3 separate regions of the Homo sapiens genome follow, and regions 1 and 2 are each linked to region 3. Evidence: fine-mapped expression QTL. A gene starts in region 3. Each other region holds a variant in brackets. All regions are shown on one strand. Distances are between the middles of the regions. Region 1 overlaps OSBPL2 (oxysterol binding protein like 2). Region 2 holds the start of LOC124904946 (a long non-coding RNA gene). Region 3 holds the start of LAMA5 (laminin subunit alpha 5).

Evidence for each region. PIP is the estimated chance that this variant, and not a neighbour inherited with it, causes the effect. A credible set is the group of variants that fine-mapping cannot tell apart.
Region 1: its variant is the best candidate, but not a certain one, in a credible set for the expression of LAMA5 in whole blood (INTERVAL, PIP 0.75).
Region 2: its variant is the best candidate, but not a certain one, in a credible set for the expression of LAMA5 in whole blood (INTERVAL, PIP 0.83).

The regions. Positions count from the first base shown.
Region 1 is chr20:62,243,118-62,250,174 of GRCh38, forward strand. All of the region lies in intron 1 of OSBPL2 (oxysterol binding protein like 2), which reads left to right. Among named protein-coding and RNA genes, the nearest start is that of OSBPL2, 8.1 kb to the left of the region's middle. RefSeq lists enhancers at 676-1,284, 1,285-1,892. The variant G/A (reference allele first, on the strand shown) is at 3,377.
Region 2 is chr20:62,337,296-62,342,295 of GRCh38, forward strand. LAMA5 (laminin subunit alpha 5) reads right to left here. Exons shown (of 80, transcript NM_005560.6): 12 at 1,173-1,313; 13 at 937-1,074; 14 at 721-855; 15 at 509-643; 16 at 295-432. LOC124904946 (a long non-coding RNA gene) reads left to right here and starts at 2,679. Exons shown (of 2, transcript XR_007067699.1): 1 at 2,679-2,826. RefSeq lists an enhancer at 2,739-2,868. The variant C/G (reference allele first, on the strand shown) is at 2,196.
Region 3 is chr20:62,365,372-62,372,224 of GRCh38, forward strand. It overlaps LAMA5 (laminin subunit alpha 5), which reads right to left and starts at 1,941. Exons shown (of 80, transcript NM_005560.6): 1 at 1,578-1,941. The coding sequence starts at 1,874. RefSeq lists enhancers at 1-47, 746-1,445, 3,544-4,243, 5,644-6,341 and a silencer at 1,625-2,064.

The sequences.
Region 1 (7,057 bases), 120 kb before region 3:
CATTTCGGTGACTCCGATAATGACGGCAGGTGTCAGGTGCGCACAGGGCGTGGGGCTACCCTCTTACTGTGAAAGAGGACACGGGCTGCGTCTGTGGTGGCGAGCTCCTGCGAGTGCCCTGGCTCTGGCTTGGCCTCTCTTGATGATGTAGCAGAGCTGGGAGTCTCGCTGTAATCATCACCCGTCTTCCAAGTAAGTCTCACCTGTGGGAAATGCTGGAACACCTGAGCGGAAGCAGAGCCAGGGCAGTGCCTGAGCTGGGGCCAGGGGAGGGGTCCCAGTGCAGAGGTGCCCGAGGAGCCCTAGCGCCTGCCCCGCAGCCCCTGCCCCGCAGCGCCTGCCCCGCAGCGCCTGCCCGGCAGCTCCGCCTCTTCAGTGGCTCGGCTGTCAGGGTAGAAGGCTCCTGGGTTAACATCATGGAGTTTTCACCCCTGCTTCTCATCAGAAAAGCTGGGGGAACTTTTTAAAAAGTGTGGGTTCAAGGCCCAGCCCCAGCTTCACTGAGCCTGGGTTTCCCGGGAGGGGCCCAGGAAGAGATGTGTTTAACAAGCTCGGGAGGGTCTGGGGTGGGTCCTCAGCGGGGAGTCCAAGTGCTGGAGGCCCACGGTGGGGTCAGGACCCTTTTTTAGATCAAGGACCCCTTTGAGAACTTCATGAATATGAATAATGTGGGTCATTATTCTGGGGAAAAAAATGAACGAAAAATTTTTTTTCCTGTTTTTTTAAATTTTTTAATTAAAAAAAAATTTTTTTTGCAGAGGGTAGGGGGGTTAGAGATTGGTGGTTTTCCCTGACCTTGGTTTGAAGCCCTGCCTGTAGGTGCTCAGGAAGCACAGTTGGCAGCCACGTGGGCAGGTCTGATGTTAGGGTGACAGGTTTCTCAGCACAGTGGACCCCATTAGGGCTGCACAGGATGAAGATGGGCACGATGGTGAGGAGGGCCTGGAGCTGAGGCCACAGAGAAGGAGGCGGCCAGAGGGCAAGGACGCACTCCAGCAAGCCAGCCACTCCTTGGCTGGGCAGGTGCCCTGGGGAAGGCCGGGAGCCCTGCAGGACAACAGCCTCTCACCTGGGTCACTCACTTCCCTTTGCTGTCTTAATTTTCCTCCCACTCCCTCACCGCGTCCTCCGCCTGCTGTGGCCCTTGCTGGGTTGTGAGATGTGGGTACAAGGTGTCTCCTTCTCCTCTAGCTGCAGCCGCAGGCTGGGCTCCTCTCGGGGCCGTTGGTTTTGATCATCAGAGATACACAGCGGCGGCGGGTCGGGGGCTGGCTGGACTGCTGCTGCCCTTGGAGTGCTCTCCCTGCCCTCCGGCATGGCTTTCTGAGAGCAGGGCGCCCGTGAGCTGTGGGGCATGCGCCCTGTCCATTGCCTTCCCACCCAGTCTCGTGGGCCGCATTGGAACAGCTTTTTATTGTGTTGCATAAGGAGAAGGTTGATTAAAACACATGTTTTTGTACGGAAGCGCTTGCATTCATCTTGTGTGTTTGGAAATACATCGTACTGCATTACAAGGTAATGTTCCTCGAGGTGCGTGGTGTATTTTTGGCAATTAATATTCCACAGGAAGCAGTTAAGTCAGCGACAAGACTTGAGGGAGTTGACTGTGGTGAGTGGGGCGCTAGGCTCCGCTTCCGGGACGTCGGGCCACACTGGCCGCGAGGCCCAGTGGGAAGGTTTGCCACTCCCCACAGCTGCTTCTTGGGACCAAGCCGGGCTCACCTTTGCCTGCCTCTCAAGGTCACCCTCTTGGCATGGAGAATGGTAAACAGTGGGGGTGCTGCTGTCTGCACAGTGGGAGAGGTTCACCTGCCTTTCTCAGTGTAGAAACTTCCTGCGTGAATTCTGGACTGATGCAGAGTCCTCATGTGCACCTGGCAAGTTTGCCTGGCTGGCACGCGTAGCACAGGGCCTTCCCGAGTCAGGGTTGAGCCATTCGTGTGTCCACGCTGGTGTCTTAGGATAAAGGGCTGAAATCTGTTCTTTTTTTTTTTTTTTGAGACGGTGTCTTGCCTCTGTCGCCCAGGCTGAAGTGCAGTGGCGCGATCTCGGCTCACTGCAACCTCCGCCTCATGGGTTCAAGTGATTCTTGTGCCTCAGCCTTCTGAGTAGCTGGGACTACAGGCATGTGCCACCTGTAATTTTTTTGTATTTTTAGTAGAGATGGGGTTTTGCCATGTTGCCCAGCTGGTCTTGAGCTCCTGACCTCAAGTGATCTGCCTGCCGTGGCCTCCCAAAGTGCTGGGATGACAGGCGTGAGCCACCGCGCCCGGCCTGAAACCTGTTCTTCAGCTAAGGCGTGTTACATTCTGTGTGGTGTTAGGGAGCTGGTTTGTGATGAGCCACGTAGAGCCCCACGCTAAGAAGAACCATACAGGCCTGAAGAAGGCGGAGAGGTTGTTCAGGTTAAAAAGCGCAGACCTAGAGCCAGCTGGTTCTGTGCTCAGAAGGGCTGTCTCCTGGAGCTTCTGATGCAGTTGGACTTAACCTTATTTGGCTAAAGGATCAAGAACCAGTGTTCAATAAAGGTCACTCTTGATTCCATCCCATTGCCACCAAAACACAGTGCATTTAAGGGCAAAGGCCTGAGCGGCCAGTCGTACGTGCCTCACTCGTGACGGGCTGCAGATGGTGACGAGGACAGACAGCCGTGCACATACCCCTTGTTAAAAAAGGTCATTGTTGTGAATGGCATATGACTTGTTTATTTGGTTCTAAATTTATACAAAATCTGTAAAAATAACCGTTAAGCTTTTACAATGACAGGAATATTAAGGCTTGATTTTTTTCCTCGACAATTGGCAGAAGGCGTGTTTCAGTGAGCACAGACGGAGCAATCCAGGGAGGTCTGGGAAGGAGGAATGGGGCCTGGCCTGGCGGTGTCCTTGACGGCCCTCCATCGTTGTGGGGTTGGTGTTTGAGAGGTAGCTGTGGCGCGGGGCCGGCTGCCATTCCCGCGTCTCCTCGCAGAGGCCTGGACCTGCGCCTGGGGCTGGCAAAGCCCTCTGCTCTCGCTGCTGCCGCCGCCTCCATCTTCCTCCACCCTCTGGTGGGGCTGGTCACAGGCAGGGCATGGTCCCATGATGGCTCAGCCCCATGGGGCCCCGGGACGCTGTGTCCAGGATGGGCGCCACTGCCGTGGGTGGCTGTTGAAGTGAAGTCAATTCAGCTGATTAGCATCCAGCATTCAGTTCTCCCTCACGTTTCAAGTGCTTGTAGCCACCTGTGGCCCATAGGGACGACACTGGACAGATGACATTTCCAGTGCCATGGGAGAGTCTAAGCTCAGCTCTGAAGCTGTGAAATGTTGAGTCTTTGTTTTAGTTAAGTTTTGTTTTTTTGCAAAAGAAACGAGATTGTGGCCTGGTGGCCAGCT[G/A]GGTGTCAGTGGGGTGAGGGCTTCTAGGCGTCCGGGTGATGCATGGGCTGAGTTTGCAAAGTGGATGTGTCAAGGCTGAAATGCTAGCTGAGAAGCATTGCCCACGCTAGGCTTGGACACGCAGGGAGGGATGAGGTGTCAGAGAGGCCCTGACTGGTCACTCCTGCCCCAGGGCTTAGAAGGTGCTGGGTGAAGAGAGCTGCGCCCCTGTCCCTCAGCCCCTGCCCCTCCCCCTCAGTGCCACACGGAGGTGCAGGCATCTCACACCAGGTTCTCCCTGGGTCCGTTCATGTCACAGCAGGCTTTGTCTTGCTGTCCATGATTTCATGTTCCCATCCTCCAGCCTTGATCCGGGAGACCTTTCTGTTCTTTAATTTCCACAGAGAGCTAATTCTGTCCTTAAACTTTGTGACTCTGATGCTCGTAGGTGACACTTGTTTCCCTTCCTGGTGCTCTGGCAACCTCGCAGTGTCATGGTGGCATCTTTCCAAGCATTTGAGTGGCCAGGTTAGGCCCTGCCAGGTCGCCGACTGCTCTGGGGAAGGAGAAGTCCTGCAGGGATGTGACAGTGGCTTTGGTTTGCTCCTTGGCCGGCCCCAGCCTGACCTAGTTCTGCTCTGCACTGTGGTTGGGCTCACGTGTTAGCCTTGACCTTGAGCGGATGGCAGGTGCTCTTCAGTGCACGATGCTGCACCGGGAACTTCGCTTGGCCCTGGAAGCTGGTTTGATGTGCACGTCGGCTTGAGTGAGTGCAGGGATGGCTGAGCTTGCCTCTTGGCTTAGGCACTGAAGATCTTCCTGTGGGTCCTCTGGGGTCGCTTGCTCTGTGGTTGTGCTGGATGTGGCCTCTTGTGGAGCAGAACCAGGCCTGTGGAACCCATTCCCTGTGACTGCCCTGGCACCTTGGCTTATGATTGCTGCCCCCACGCCGCAGCTGCCTCCCTGCGAAGCTCAGCGGGACCGCGGGGACTGAGGGACTGTAGCTCCCCGGCCATGCCTGACCGCAGTGTGATCCCTACGGGAATGAGTTTGAAAGTCTCTGCCAGTGGCTTTGACCTGTCAGGAGGAGGAGCATTCTTTGACCTGTCAGGAGGAGGCAGGAGGAGGCAGGAGGAGGAGCATTCTTTCAAATGGAAGTAGTGTTGGATGGGGTCCTTAGGGTCCTTTCTTTCTTTCTTTTTTTTTTTTTTTGAGCTGGAGTCTCGCTCTGTCGCCCAGGCTGGAGTGCAGTGGTGCAATCTCAGCTCACTGCAATCTCCTCCTCAGGTTCAAGCTATTCTCCTGCCTCAGCCTCCCTAGTAGCTGGGACTACAGGCACCTGCCACCATGTCCGGCTAATTTTTGTATTTTTAGTAGAGATGGAGTTTCACCATATTGGCCAGGCTGGTCTCGAACTCCTGACCTTGTGATCCGCCCACCTCGGCCTCCCAAAGTGCTGGGATTACAGGTGTGAGCCACTACGCCCGGCCCCTTAGGGTCCTTTCTAAGACAGAACCCCATCGTTGTTAATAGTGGGAACGTTTTCCCTTTCAGCAAAATACCACATAAGGCTCTGTGCACAGTTGTTTATTTGTTAGTGCTGCTTGCTGATGTATTTTTAAATTATGAAATAAAACTTATATTTTCTCTCTTTTCTTTTTTTTTCTTTTTTCTTTTCTTTTCTTTTTTTTTTTTTTTTTGTGACAGGGTCTCGCTCTGTTGCCCAGGCTGGAGTGCAATGGCTAAATCTTGGCTCATTGCAACCTCTGCCTCCCAGGTTCAAGCGATTCTCCCACCTCAGCCTCCTGGGTAGCTGAGATTAAAAGTGCACGCCACCATGCCTGGCTAATTTTTGTATATTTTGGTAGAGATGGGGTTTCACCATGTTGGCCAGGCTGGTCTCGAACTCCTGACCTCAGGTGATCCGTCCACCTCGGCCTCCCAAAGTGCTGGGACTGTAGGCATGAGCCATCGTGTCTGGGCAGAACTGTATGAACTTAGAATTGATGTTTAACCTCAGAAGTGATTTTAGAATCTTTTTGTGATCAGTGCACTCTCTGTGTCCAGCATGTCCGGGGTGCCCTGCCTGTTTCTGATGGACAGAGTAACAACATGTAATTGAACTTCCAGCAGGTCGCCCGTGGTGGTCAGCACCGGATCCCCAGTCTCGTTCACCAACTTCCTGAACTGTCAGATCTGCTTTATTTATTTATTTATTTATTTATTTATTTTTTAAGAGACAGGGTCTTGTTCTGTTGCCCTCTCTGGAGTGCAGTGGAGCAATCATAGCTCACTGCAGCCTCCAACACCTGGGGTCAAGCAGTCCTTCTGCCTTAGTCTCCTAAGTAGCTGGGACTTATAGGCACGTGCCACTGTGCCCAGCTAATTTATTTTATTTTGTTTTTTTGTACAGACAGTATCTCACTGTGTTGCTCAGGCTGGTCTTAAACTCCTGGGCTCAAGCCATCTGCCACCTTGGCTTCCCAAGGTATTGGGGTTATAGATGTGAGCCACCGTGCAGGGCCCACATCTGAGAAAAACATAAAGATGGGTTTGTACGACTTGAGTCCAAGTCTTCATACCAGTGGTAGGACATTTTGAGATCCTGGTGGGACGGGGACAGCACCTTTAAGAAAGTGTGCTGGGGTCCTTTTCAAGGGACTGGTGAGTTCCCTGGGCTAGGGGAACTGAGACTCACTGGGGCCTGCAGGGATGGCGTCCTTGGGGCCAAGGAAGTGCCCCCCAACCCCCCAAAAAAAAAATCTCACTGGAGAAGGACAAAGGGCAAGAGGCCAGCAGAGATGCCCAGCACAGACTCAGGCCCCAGGGTTTTTCTCTAGAAGTAGAAAAGGGAGAAGTTGAACAGAAAGAGCCCCTTAAAACAGACAGAAAACCCCAGCAAAGTTTGTTCCTGAAATACTCTCTCTGGGGATTGTTTTCTGAGTGCAAAGTGAGATCTGCGCGTGGAAGAACATATTCAGGAAATAAACTCTGCCTTCCTAATGCTTTTTCTTAAACATTTAACTTTCTGTATATTCCTCAACTTTGATACTCAATTATGAAGCCTAACTTTTGCTTTTTAAAATTATTTTTGCTTTTTAAATTTTTATTTATTTGTTAATAAAATAAACAGCCTCTGTCGCCCAGGCTGGAGTGCAGTGGCGCGATCTCGGCTTACTGCAACCTCCGCCTCCCAGGTTCAAGCAATTCTCCTGCCTCAGCCTCCCGAGTAGCTGGGATTACAGGCATGGGCCACCACGCCTGGCTAATTTTGTATTTTTAGTAGAGAAGGGGTATTCTCCATGTTGGTCAGGCTGGTCTGAACTCCCGACCTCAGGTGATCCACCCGCCTCAGCCTCCCAAAGTGCTGGGATTACAGGCCTGAGCCACCACACCTGGCCCCACCCAGGCCTCTGAGAAGTCCAGGGGTGGGCAGATGGGAGGGAGGAAGGACTGAGGACCTGGCTGGGGCAGGCGCTCCTCGACCCCATGGGGCCATCTGTGCTTCCCAGCACACCCTGGTCCTCCTGTCTTTTCTCCCTGCCCCCAAGGCTCACTCTGAGCTCAGCTCCAGGGTTGCCCCCTTAGGAACTTGCCCAAGAAGGGCCCTCCTGGGAGCACCTTCGTGACCGGCTTCATGAGGGCGGGACCACCACAGTTCCACCTCAAGGCCTGGCACCAGGTAGGCTCTCTGTGAGTGTT
Region 2 (5,000 bases), 29 kb before region 3:
GGTGACACACACACCCACACAAGCAACACATGACACCCGTACACACACAGAACGCAACACATGCACCCATACGAGACACGACAGGCGCGGATGCACAGCACGCAGACACGGGCAGTACGCGGACACCCCTGCACGGCATGTGAACAAGGTGCGAACACAGAGCGTGGGGACGCAGTCGCAGTACACACAGCAAGATGCACGTGAACAGCCTCACAGGAAGGCAGGCAGCGTGTGAACAGCACAGACCCACACACAGGCCCGGCACCTGGTGCACACAGCCACCTGCCTGCTCACCTTCGCAGTAGGGGAAGTTGTAGGCACCGGGCACACATGTGTCACACCGCAGCCCCGTCACACGGGGCCGGCAGCTGCACTGCCCACTCCGGGGGTCACAGGCTGCGTGCAGGGAGCCTTCAGCAGAGCAGTGGCAGGCTGCAGACAAGGATAGCTGTGGGCACGCAGTGGAGACTGCACCTGCCTCCCCACCACTTCCTCCCTAGGCACTCACGGACACAGCTGGGGAAGCCGTGAAAGCCGGGGCTGCATTCCTGGCAGGCAGTGCCTGTGTAGCCGGGGCGGCAGCGGCACAAACCTCCCGCCCCACAGAGCTGGTCCAGGGCTCCCCGAGGGTCGCAGGTGCATGCTGCAGAGGGACAATGGGGTCAGGCCCTGGCGCCATGTGGGTGGCAGAACCCCTTCCTGCCCTGACCCTCTGCTCACCTTGGCAGTTGGGGAAACCATGGTAGCCAGGGCGGCACCGGTCACAATGAGGTCCAGCAAACTCAGGCTGGCATAGGCAGCGGCCGGCCTCATCGCAGCCCTCGGGCAAGGTTCCTGCAGGGCTGCAGCCACACACTGCAGAGCGGAGCGGGTGTCACGGTAGGCCAGGCCCACGGGCCTCCCCTACCCACGCCCACGTGGAGAGGCACCACTCACACTGGCAGAGAGGGAAGTGAAAGTAGCCGGGGGCACAGCGATCACATGTGGCCCCCTCGAAGCCCACTCGGCACCTGCACTGGCCTGTGTCAGGGTCACAGCGGTCATCGGCCACTCCAGGGCTGGAACACTGGCAGGCTGCAGGAAAGGGTGGCCCACATGCTTGGTCAGAGGCACCAGGCCTCAGGTGTCCACCTCGAGCGCAGGTAGAGGTTGAGCGGGGAGAGGGGACTCACGCTGGCAGCCGGGGCCGTAGAACCCTGGCGCGCAGAGCTCACAATGGGTGCCTTGGAAGTTGGGTTTGCACAGACAGCGTCCCACCCTTGGGTCCTTCCGGCAGGCGTTGCCCTGGGTCCCTGCCGCGCTGCAGTCACAATCTGGAGGGTGGGGACAGGCAGGGGAGTCTCAGATGCCCTGCAGACCCCAGTACGCCCCTCCTGGCAAACCTTCCCTCTCCACAAACTCATTTTCTTACACTTTTACACAACACTAACTAGAAAATAAAATAATAAAAATCCCAGCAAGGGCTGGGTGCAGTGGCTCACGCCTGTAATCCCAGCACTTTGGGAGGCCGAGGCGGGCAGATCATGAGGTCAAGAGTTCGAGACCAGCCTGACCAACATAGTGAAGCCCTGTCTGTACTAAAAATACAAAAATTAGCTGGGCGTAGTGGTGCACCCCTGTAATCCCAGCTACTTGGGAGGCTGGGGCAGGAGAATCGCTTGATCCTGGGAGGCGGAGGTTGCAATGAGCCGAGATCGCACCACTGCACTCCAGCCTGGGCGACAGGGTGAGACTCCGTCTCAAAAAAAAAAAAAAATTCCAACAAGGGAGAGGCGTGTTTGGGAAAACAGTGATGTGCAACAAAGTCAGGCCAACTATCAAAACGCTTCATTAGTTATTTCTTACGTAGATTCCTAGTTAGCTGCAAGCATTAACACAAAGAGAAAATACAAACAAATCAAAACTCAAAACAAGCTGCAAAACAAATTATAGTTTCTTTTTTTTTTTTTTTTTTTTTTTTGAGACGGAGTCTTGATCTGTCGCCCAGGCTAGAGTGCAGTGGCACGATCTGGGCTCACTGCAAGCTCTGCCTCCCGGGTTCACACCATTCTCCTGCCTCAGCCTCCCCAGCAGCTGGGACTACAGGTGCACGCTGCCACGCCCGGCTAATTTTTGTATTTTTAGTAGAGACGGGGTTTCACTATGTTAGCCAGGACGGTCTCCATCTCCTGACCACGTGATCCGCCTGCCTCGGC[C/G]TCCCAAAGTGCTGGGATTAAAATTATAGTTTCTTTAGAAACAATGTCAGGTGTTGGGAAGAAGGTAGAAAGAATGTATCAAATGTCTTAACTTACGCATGAAAGGAGGGTTGTGAGCACGCTTCAGTTTTGTTACTGATAGAAAAATAAAGGTTCAATACTTGTCAAAAATGTAAGAGTAACCACTGGTCAGACCAGAACACAGAAAGAGAGCTTGCAAACCCTCCCCAGAGAGGAAACAGTAGCAAAAACCAAAATCAAAGCACGTTTTCTTGCTCTAACTTGTGAAAGTCAGGAAAGGAAATGTTTCAGCAGAAAAGGAGAAATGATACAAGGGCAGGAGCCAGCCAGAACTGACAGAGGCAAGGACGATCGTGGGGCTGCGCTGTCTCCTTCATGAGATAAAAACCGAAGACGTCAGCGTGACCAAGAGGAAACTCCAGCCATAGCCTCTTGAAAGAGCGTACCTTAAACCAACGCCTCAGACAGGTGGTAAACCGAGAGCTGTGTGCAGGGAGCTGGGGTGGACGCAAACACAGAGGAGTGAGGACGGAAGGCACAGCGGTAACGAGACAGAGGGAAGCTCAGGCATGTCACCCAACGGGCAGCAGAAACGAATCTCTAGGAGCAGGTAACGTGTCCTGGAGGTGAGGGAAGCTAAAACTATTAAAATGGCAAGGAGAATTTGGCAAACCAGAGTCAGAGAGAGACAAAGACTGGATGGAGATACATAGGTAGACTGTGACAGCTCAGAGGGACAGAAATTGAGCAAGGGTACTGTGGGTTTGAAGAGCATAATGAACAAGCCTCCTTTGTTTTTTTTTTTTTTTTTTTTTTTGAAATGGAGTTTCGTTCTTGTTGCCCAGGCTGGAGTGCAGTGGCGCCATCTCAGCTCACTGCAAACCCTACCTCCCGGGTTCGAGCCATTCTCCCGCCTCAGCCTCCCGAGTAGCTGGGATTACAGGCATGCGCCACCATGCACAGCTTATTTTGTATTTTTAGTAGAGACGGGGTTTCTCCATGTTGGTCAGGCTCGTCTCGAACTCCCGACCTCAGGTGACCTGCCCACCTCAGCCTCCCAAAGTGCTGGGATTACAGGCGTGAGCCATCGCACCTGGCCACAAGTCTGCTTTAACATGCCAAATCGGTACTCCATAGAGAACACACATTCCTGTCCAATGTTCCTGGAACAATCTAAAAGTGGTCACATTCTGGATTAGAAACAAAGAAAATCTCAAATTCCAAAAACAAAAGGCAGAAACTGCCAGGCGCAGTGGCTCATGCCTGTAATCCTAGCACTTTAGGAGGCTGAGGTGGGTGGATCAACTGAGGTCAGGAGTTCGAGATCAGCCTGGCCAACATGGTAAAACCCCATCTCTACTAAAAATACAAAAATTACCCAAGTATGGTGGTGGGCGCCTATAATCAGTCCCAGCTACTCGGGAGGCTGAGGCAGGAGAATCGCTTGAACCTAGGAGGTGGTGGTTGCAGTGAGCCGAGATCGTGCAACTGGACGCCAGCCTGGGTGACAGAGTGAGACTCTGTGTCAAAATAAATAAATAAATAAATAAATAAATAAATAAATAAATAAAATTAAAAAATAAAAGTCGTCACATTCTAGGTTAGAAACAAAGAAAATCTCAAATTCCAAAGACAAAAGGCAGAAACTATCAGTGTGCCAAGTCTAACCACGATGCAGCAAAACCAGAACTGCACACCACGAAAAGGACAGGAGGGAAACCTCAGCACCTTGAACAGTGACGGGTTGAAAGAAAATAAAACCCCAAATGATAGACTATTTAAAAAAAACACAGCAATGAGGACACCCCACATCTCAAACTACAAGATACCTAGCCAAAGGTATACTCTGAGGAAAATTTATAGCTTTAAACTAGAGTTTCCCAGCCTCAGGACTACTGACAGTCCAGGCTGGATAACTCTTTGTTATGTGTGCAGGAGCAGTCCTGTGTTGTAGGAGGTTCCCAGCATCCCTAGCCTCTACCCACTGGATCAGTTACATCCATCAATCGTCACAACCAAAAATGTCTCCAGACATCATCGAATGCTTCCTGTGCATCAAAGTCACCACTGGCTGAGAACCACTGCTTTAAGCCTTTTTGTTGGGAATGAAGACAGACTAAAAATAATAACTCAAGAAGCTATTTTAAAAAAGTGATAAATCAAAGAAAGTGGATTAAAGAAATTGAATATTAGAAAGGAAAATCTCTCCTCCCAACTAAAGAAAGAAAAACCTCAGCAGGTCTTATCAAGAGAACTGCACCTGTACTTCGAACAGACCAATAAACTCAACGAACCTCTGTTAGGTCTGATCAACCAAAAAAAAAAAAAAAAAAAAAGAAGAAGAAAGAAAATAAAAATAAAAATAGACGAGAATAGAAATGAACAGAAATTTTAACTTTATAACAGGCCACTGTGCATAACTTTATGTCAATACATTAAAAAATCCAAACAAAATACACAATTTGCTAATACAAATAATCAAACCTGACTTAAGATGAGGAAGAAAACTGGCCAGGCGTGGTGGCTCATGCCTGTAATACCAGCACTTTGGGAGGCCGAGGCAGGTGGATCACTTGTGGTCAGAGTTCAAGACCAGCCTGGCCAACATGGTGAAACCCCGTCTCTACTAAAAATACAAAAAATTGGCCAGGCGTGGTGGCAGGTGCCTGTAATCCCAGCTACTCGGGAGACTGAGGCAGGAGAATCGCTTGAACCCAGGAGGCAGAGGTTGAAGTGAGCCGAGATCGTGCAACTGCACTCCAGCCTGGACGACAGAGTGAAACT
Region 3 (6,853 bases):
GCTGAGGCAGAGGAGAGGGGCGTTGACTACAGGCTGGCCCTTTACTCACGAGACGGGGGTAATAAGCCCCCACAGAGGAGACAGATCTGAGAGGGGGCCTGTGGCCCCCAGCCACGCAGCATGGGCAGGCTGTGGGGGGGTGGTCTGAGGTTCACAGGGCACCTGGAGCCTCCCCTGCCAGAACGGCAAAATCTCAGCTGGGGACACTCAGCCAGGCCCTCTGTGGTGAGGTGTGGCAGCAGGTAAGGAGACAGTCACAGGCCCTCCGTCCTGAGACCCGGCCCCTCTGAGTTGACCAGATAAGGGGGCAGCCAGGAGGCACCCAGGTTCCCACAGCTAACCCCCGCTGGACCCTGTTCTGGCTGGGGGGCTCCAAGCAGGTGTCAGCAGCTTTCCAGGGCTCAGATCCCCCATCTGAAGTGTGGGCTTGAGACCTCCTATCTCAGAGGACTGTGCTGGGCTTAAGGAGAGAACGGTGAGCCCAGAAGCCTGGGGAGGCTCCTTCCCCCTCCACCAGGGCCAAGGGGGTGGGGCAGGCAGAGGGGGCGGGCCCAGCCCAGGCTCCTCCATTCATCCCCATAACGTCTTGCTCCAGGGCCCTCTGCCCCCACCCAGCAAATCTCCAGCTACTCGCCCCTGCCCCAGCCTCTCCTTCCGGGAAGGCAGAGGTACCAGGGAGGAGACAGCTCAGGTTACACAGGCCCTCAGGGCCCCTAGACTCTCCCTAAGGTGGGGCTGAGGTGGGGAATGGGCCTAGAGCGGCCGGTTGGGAGCCGTTGGAGCTGACTTTGCTGCTCCTCACCCAAGGCTGACCCCAGGCCCAACCTAAGTCTACAGGGCCCCAAGAGCCTTGGTTTTCAGGTGAGGTGTCCATGCATGGAGTCCACCAACAGAACCCGCCTACAGGTTTAAGGCTTGTTGGGGAGGGGACATGCACCCCAGGGGGTCTTCAGGGCCTGAACCCACATCTCCCAGGGAGACTGAAGCCCCCGGACCCTACCACCTGCTGGGCAGAGATGCTGCCCCTCCTGGGAGCCACGTGTTCCCAGCCCCAGTCAAAACTTCGCAGCTGGCCCTCCCCTACTTTGGAGGTCTCCTCGAGTCCCTAGACTCCTCCGAGAGGGGCTAGTGGGAGCCTCAGGTGGCTGGCCCCTCCCACCCCATCCAGAGGCCAACAGGTTCCAGCCTGTCCCGGGTAGGGCGGAGCTGCGCCCCCTCCCCACCGGCAGCAGGCGGCGGAGGCCAAGTCCCGCCCTCCCCGGGATCCCGGACTTGGGGCCGCCAGGGACTGGGCCCGGCCCCCCTCCCGCCCCGGTCACCGCAGTCGAACTGGACCGGCGCCCAGCCGCCCCCGGGTCCATGCCGGGGACTTTAATTCCGCCTTCCCGGAGGGACGCGAAGTTTCCCGGCCGAGACGGAGCGGCCGGGTCGGGGTGCCTTCTTGGGCCCCCAAAATGCGGAACCAGAGAGTCCGCACCTGGACTCGCCCCGGGCCACGGCGCTCCCCCTGGGGTCGGGCCGGTGTTCCGGGTCCGAGTGCCCCGGGAGGAAGCCCCACGGCCCGCCCCTGCGCTCACCCGGATGGTCTGGTTGGGGTCGCCGCCGGCCACGGGGCCCCCTACCAGCTTGCAGTAAAGGTCCTCGGTGGGGCGCGGGGAGCCGCGCGCCGGGGCCTCCTCTCCGCAGGTCGCGGAGGCGGCGATGCGGGCGCCCTCGGCCAGGTTGAAGTAGGGCGGGTGCAGGCTGAAGCCGCCGCCCGCCTCCTCCCGCGCCCGCGCCGCGCCCAGCAGCGCCAGCCCGACCAGCAGCAGCGGCGCGGGGCCCCGGGGGCCGCGAACACACAGTGCGCTCCCCGCGCAGAGCCGCTTCGCCATCTTCCCGGCTCCGGGCCGCGTCCCCGAGCTCCAGGGACAGCGCGCGCGGCGGGAGCCCGGCGGGTCTGAAGCCAGGCGGCCGGCAGGGCTCGCTCCGCCCGCGGACGTCAGGCCCCGCCCCGGCCCGCCCGAGCGCCCGAGCCCCGAGCCCCGGGGAGAGGTCCGGGGAGGCGGGGTGGGGGGGGGAAGGAGAGAGGAGGGGGAGGGGCGGCCGGGCGGCCTTAACCCTTCGGACCCCGGCCCGGCCGCCTCCCGGAAGGGGCACCTGCTGGCCTCGGGCCAGGCCGTGGGACGACGGCGCCGCCGGGCCCCCAGCCCAGGTCGTAGCTCCGGGTCCCGGGTGGGACCCTAGCGCTCCCCACGACGCCCTGGCCCCCAGAGCGCCCACCAGCTCCTCCCAGCCCAGGGGCCCACTCTTTGTTCCCCTAACTTGGGTGCACCACTCGGCTGCCCCCGCTCCTCCCCCAACAGCGTCCGTCCTGCTGGCTGCGGGAAGGTGCCCTCTGCACCCGCGAATGACCATCTGCAGAGGAACGGGGCAGCCTAGGTGGGAACCCCCTGCTTCCTGGGGCAGCCAGGTCAGGTTCAACTCGGCCTGGCTCCCGCCTGCCCCAGCAGGGCTTAAAAATACTCTCAGATAGGGAAATAGGGGCAGGAGGGACTGGCCTGCAGCTGCAGCCCCCTTTAGAGGACGGGGGCGGTGCTCATGGCCCCACAGCCGCCAAATTGGCTCTTAAGGAGGTCGGGGGCTCTGGTCACAGCTGCTGAGCACCTGCTGGGTGCCTGGAAGCACCTGTGCTCCGGGGCCCGGTGGACTCCACCAGCTCTCTCGGCCTGGCCTCCAACCCGCTGCACAGCCGCGCACGCGTTCCTGCCACGATCGGCGGCTCGAGGACGCCTGGCAAACAGCACAGGACCTAGAGGCCGAGATCAGGTCTTCGTCTGCCTTTGGGTGGCTGCGGCCCTGGGTCTCCTACTTCCCTTGGGCTCCGGGGCCAAATCTGCCTCCAGGGAAGCCCCGAGGGGGTGGCGGCGGGGTGGGGCTGCAGCTGCCGAGCTGGCAGCAAACCCCCATCCCTGAGCCAGGCCAGCTGGGCGGGCCATGGTCCCAGATGGGCTGTGGGGCTCATCTCTCGCTGGGTTCCCTGGACAGTCCCGGGGGGCTGGGTGGGTTTGTGGGGCACTGGCCAGCCGGTTCTGGTGGGGGTTCTGAGCTAGCAGCTGTCCCTGGAGGGTGCACCTCCTTGCACACCTTCCTGGCGCCCTGGCCTCCTGCAAATCTCAAATCCCAAGAGGGTGTATGGCCCTTTCTCTACGGAGTCGGGAGGGCGATGGGACCCTCTCTCCCTCCTCCTACTTTCCGGCCCGGCAATTCTTCCATAACTTCACTATTAGTTCTCCCACCTGGGGGAGGGGGGAGAGGAGGCGGCTCCCCTTGGCAGGAGAAGCTCCAAGTGGGGGAGGGGCTGGCTGGAGAGGGGGCGGAGACATCAAGGAATCTGCAGTCCAGGCGCAGAGTCCGGCTCTGAGCTGCTTTAGATCCCGTGTGAGGCAGAGAGTGGCCTCTGGGCAGTAGCGGGTCCCCAGGTGGGGGCTTGGCCCCAGGCAGTGTGCTCTGGCTCTGGGCTCCCCCTTGACAGCTTGGGGCTCTGACAGCCTGGGGGACTGGAGGTGGAGACTCCTGAGACCCTGAGGGCTTCTTGGGATCCCTGGAGGGTCGGGTGGTTGGAGGGGTGGGATTGCGAGTGGCGGGGCAGGGGGAGAGGTGGGGGTGGGGAGAGCACTTTAAGCCTCCTAGCGGCCAGATCAGGCCAAGCTGCCAGGCCTCCGCTGTCCCCCGGCACTGGCCAGGAGGGGAGCGGGGGCCGGCCCTGAGAATGCGCTGTGTCAGCCGGAGCTGCCAGCACCAGCAGGGTTAATCACCGGGCTCACTGCTTCCCGGCAGACAGCTGCCCCGGGAGCAACTGGCAGGCAGGCGGGCAGCGCAGTGGACAAGAGAATGTGGCCCAGGGGCTGGGTAAAGAGCCCACACTCTGCCCCCACCCTGTGTCTGCTGGTGCACGGACTGGGAAGGAGGCAGCTGGGGCAGGAGCTGAGCGTATGGAGGGCGGGGGGGCTGTCCCAGCCGGGCTACACACAGGGGGTTGGGGAGGTGAGCAGGGAGAGGGGCAGCTCATCTCTGCACACCCCCACCCCTGCTGTCTTTGTCATGGTTCCAGTGAGTCATCACCAAATGGACCAGCGAGCCTGTCTCCTTGTCTTTCTGAGTCCTGCGCAGCCCAGCCACCTCTTCTATTTACAAATGGGGAAACTGAGGCCAAAAAGGCCAGGGTCAATCAAGAGCACACAAGTTAGTAAAGCAAGAGGAAGTTTGTCCATCATTCATTTCTTACTCCTATTTACTGGGCATCTTTCGGGCACCCGCCCGTGACGTAGTCCTCCTCCCTGCAACAGGTCAGACGGCACCCCACCCCCAAACACGTCCTGTCCTGAATCCACAGGAGGGAGCTGCCCAGTCTGGGAGTGGAGGGGAGGGTAAAAGGAGGTGGCTCGCCAGGGGAGGGCCGTGGAGGAGCCTCTGTCCCACCAGGCTCTGGCTGCCCTCCAGGGACAATCCAAGATCCAGAGCCCCTGCCCACCCAGCTCCAGGGTGATGGAGCCCCAGAGGAGGTGGGTCGGGGGCAGGGGTCAGTGGCAGCCCGAGAGAAGTAGGGGCACTCCTGGCCCTGGGGAAGGGGTCTCAGATCCTCCCCCAGCCCTGGGACAAGGTCTGCTGCGGAGCCCTGGGGGCAGCCACCTCACCTGAGCCCCCAGTGCTACTCCAGTGGCATTCCTGAGAATGCCCCCACCCTACTCGGCCACACCTGCAGGCAGCTGTGGGGGACCCTGAGGGTAGGCCACAGGCACATCTGACTCAGCCGTGAGTCGTGAACTCCTGACCTTGGGAGCCTCCTGGGGACACCGCTGTGCTGAGGACATGGGGCACCCCCACGCCCACACTCAGCTGCATCACAGGCAGCCACAATCAGTAACAGATGACTCTGCAGACCCTCCTGTCCCAGAGCCCAGGGTCCAAGTGGGTGCTGTACCCTCGGGAGAAGCCCCCAAGAGGAAGCGGGGGCTGAGCAAGAAGGAGGGCTGGAGGCTGGGCTCCTGCTAGGGCCGGGCCTGCGGGTGAGGCCTTGTGGCTCCCACTCCAGAACTGGGAATGTTGTCTCAGCGGGATGAGGTCTGGAGGAACGCCAGCGCTGTGGTTTGGGATATCGGAGGCCACAGTCCCTTTCTCAGGGCTGCTGGGATGCCCTTCCGTGGAGCCGGCTGGTAAGAACCTCCATCCCTGTCCATGAAATAGAGAAGCTGGGAGCGGGCAGCAAGGCTGGTTCTGAACTGTTCGCGTGGGCCAGCTCAGTCCTCTGGGAGGAGGACACAGAACAGCAGGTGCCGGGAAGACAAGGTCTCATCAGGATTGCATAAACCCAGCGGACTGGGAGAGCTTCTGGGCCTCTTGGCCTAGGAGGCCCCCACTGCCCTCAGCCTGGACAGACTGCTGTAAGAGCCAGCCCGGAGTTGCAGACCCTGGGGGGCTGGCCTCAAAGGAATGGAGGCAGAGCCCAGGAAGACCCTGAGCCATAGCCAGACCCCTCCCCCAGGCCTGGAGCCCGCCTTCCCCCAGGGCTGCCACCTGCCTCCAGCCTCCGAGGGTCTGCAGGTTCCTGCTGCCAGAAGGATGGGGCCAAGGGATAGTCCGGCCTTCCTGGCCTAGGCAGGGTCTGGAAACAGCCCGTTTGGAAGGAGTGGTGCTTTTTCCTCCCTGGCTGTGACCCCAGCTGGGCCACTGCTGGGCTCCTGACGGCCTCTGGGACATGTGGTTGTTGGAAAGCACAGAGACCAGGCTCCGGGTTGACACTAACCAGGAATGAAGGACTCTGACCCACCGCTGCCTGGCCCCTGGCCCCTCTGCCACTTGCTGTGTGTGCCCAGCTCACAGGCCACGCAGCCCCAGGCACCACTCACGGGGCAGGCCCTCCACAGACTTGGGGCTCTTCAAAGCCTTCCAGGCCAGGCACCATGCCAGGAGCATGGCCACCGCCTTAGGGCTCCAGGAGACAAGTCACCCGTGCAGGTGACATGCCTCACGCCTGCCCACTCCCCGAGGCCCGACCCAAAGGCTGCCACTGGGTTCACACCTGGGGGGTTTCAGGTGGGCCCCCATGCCAGAGGGGGTGCAGACAGGCTTAGGTGGTGCCCAGTGTCGGAGATCTGGAGAGGGTCAGCATCCGGGCTCCTTGGGCTCTCCACAGATGCTCCCCGAGGCTCCTCTTGCCCACCCAGCTCCTTTTCTTCCCAAGTGGCAAGGAGAAGCGCTTGGGCTGGTGCCCTGTGCAGGCGGGCCCAGCCCCATGACAAGCAGGCAAACCTGGGGTGCTCAGAAATGGGGGGGCCTCATGGAGCTCTGTGGGGTGGTCTGCGTGGCGACCGAAAGTCCAGAGTCCAGGATCCCACCTGGATGCCCCTGCCCCGGCCTGGGCCTGTGTAGCTGGGTGTAGGGGAGCCTCCACCCTGCCAGCCTTTAGGAGGGAAGGAGTAGGGGGCCCTGGGAACTCCCAGGGAGGGGGCCCGGGACCTCCCTGGGATCTAACCACCTACAACTTGGCAGGGAAGGGGCCGGTCCAGTAACAAGGTTGCTCCCAGGACCCCAACCCATCCCCTCCCTCAAGTGGGGGCCCCTGTCAGGGCACCTCCCAGCACCTTGCTGGGGTGTGAGGCAGAGTCCAGGACTCCTGCCCCCAGATCTCTGGGGAGCCCCAGAAAAGGCATCGCCCGGGGTAAACATGCAGTGGCACACGGCTGCAGCGTCCACCCCGAGGCCGGGCACCTACGCTTCCACGTGTCACCTTAATCTTATTTAATTGCGGTCCCCCTACCCCGTACCCCCATTCTTACCACTTGCTTGCCTCAGGCCTAGACTGGGGAGCCCT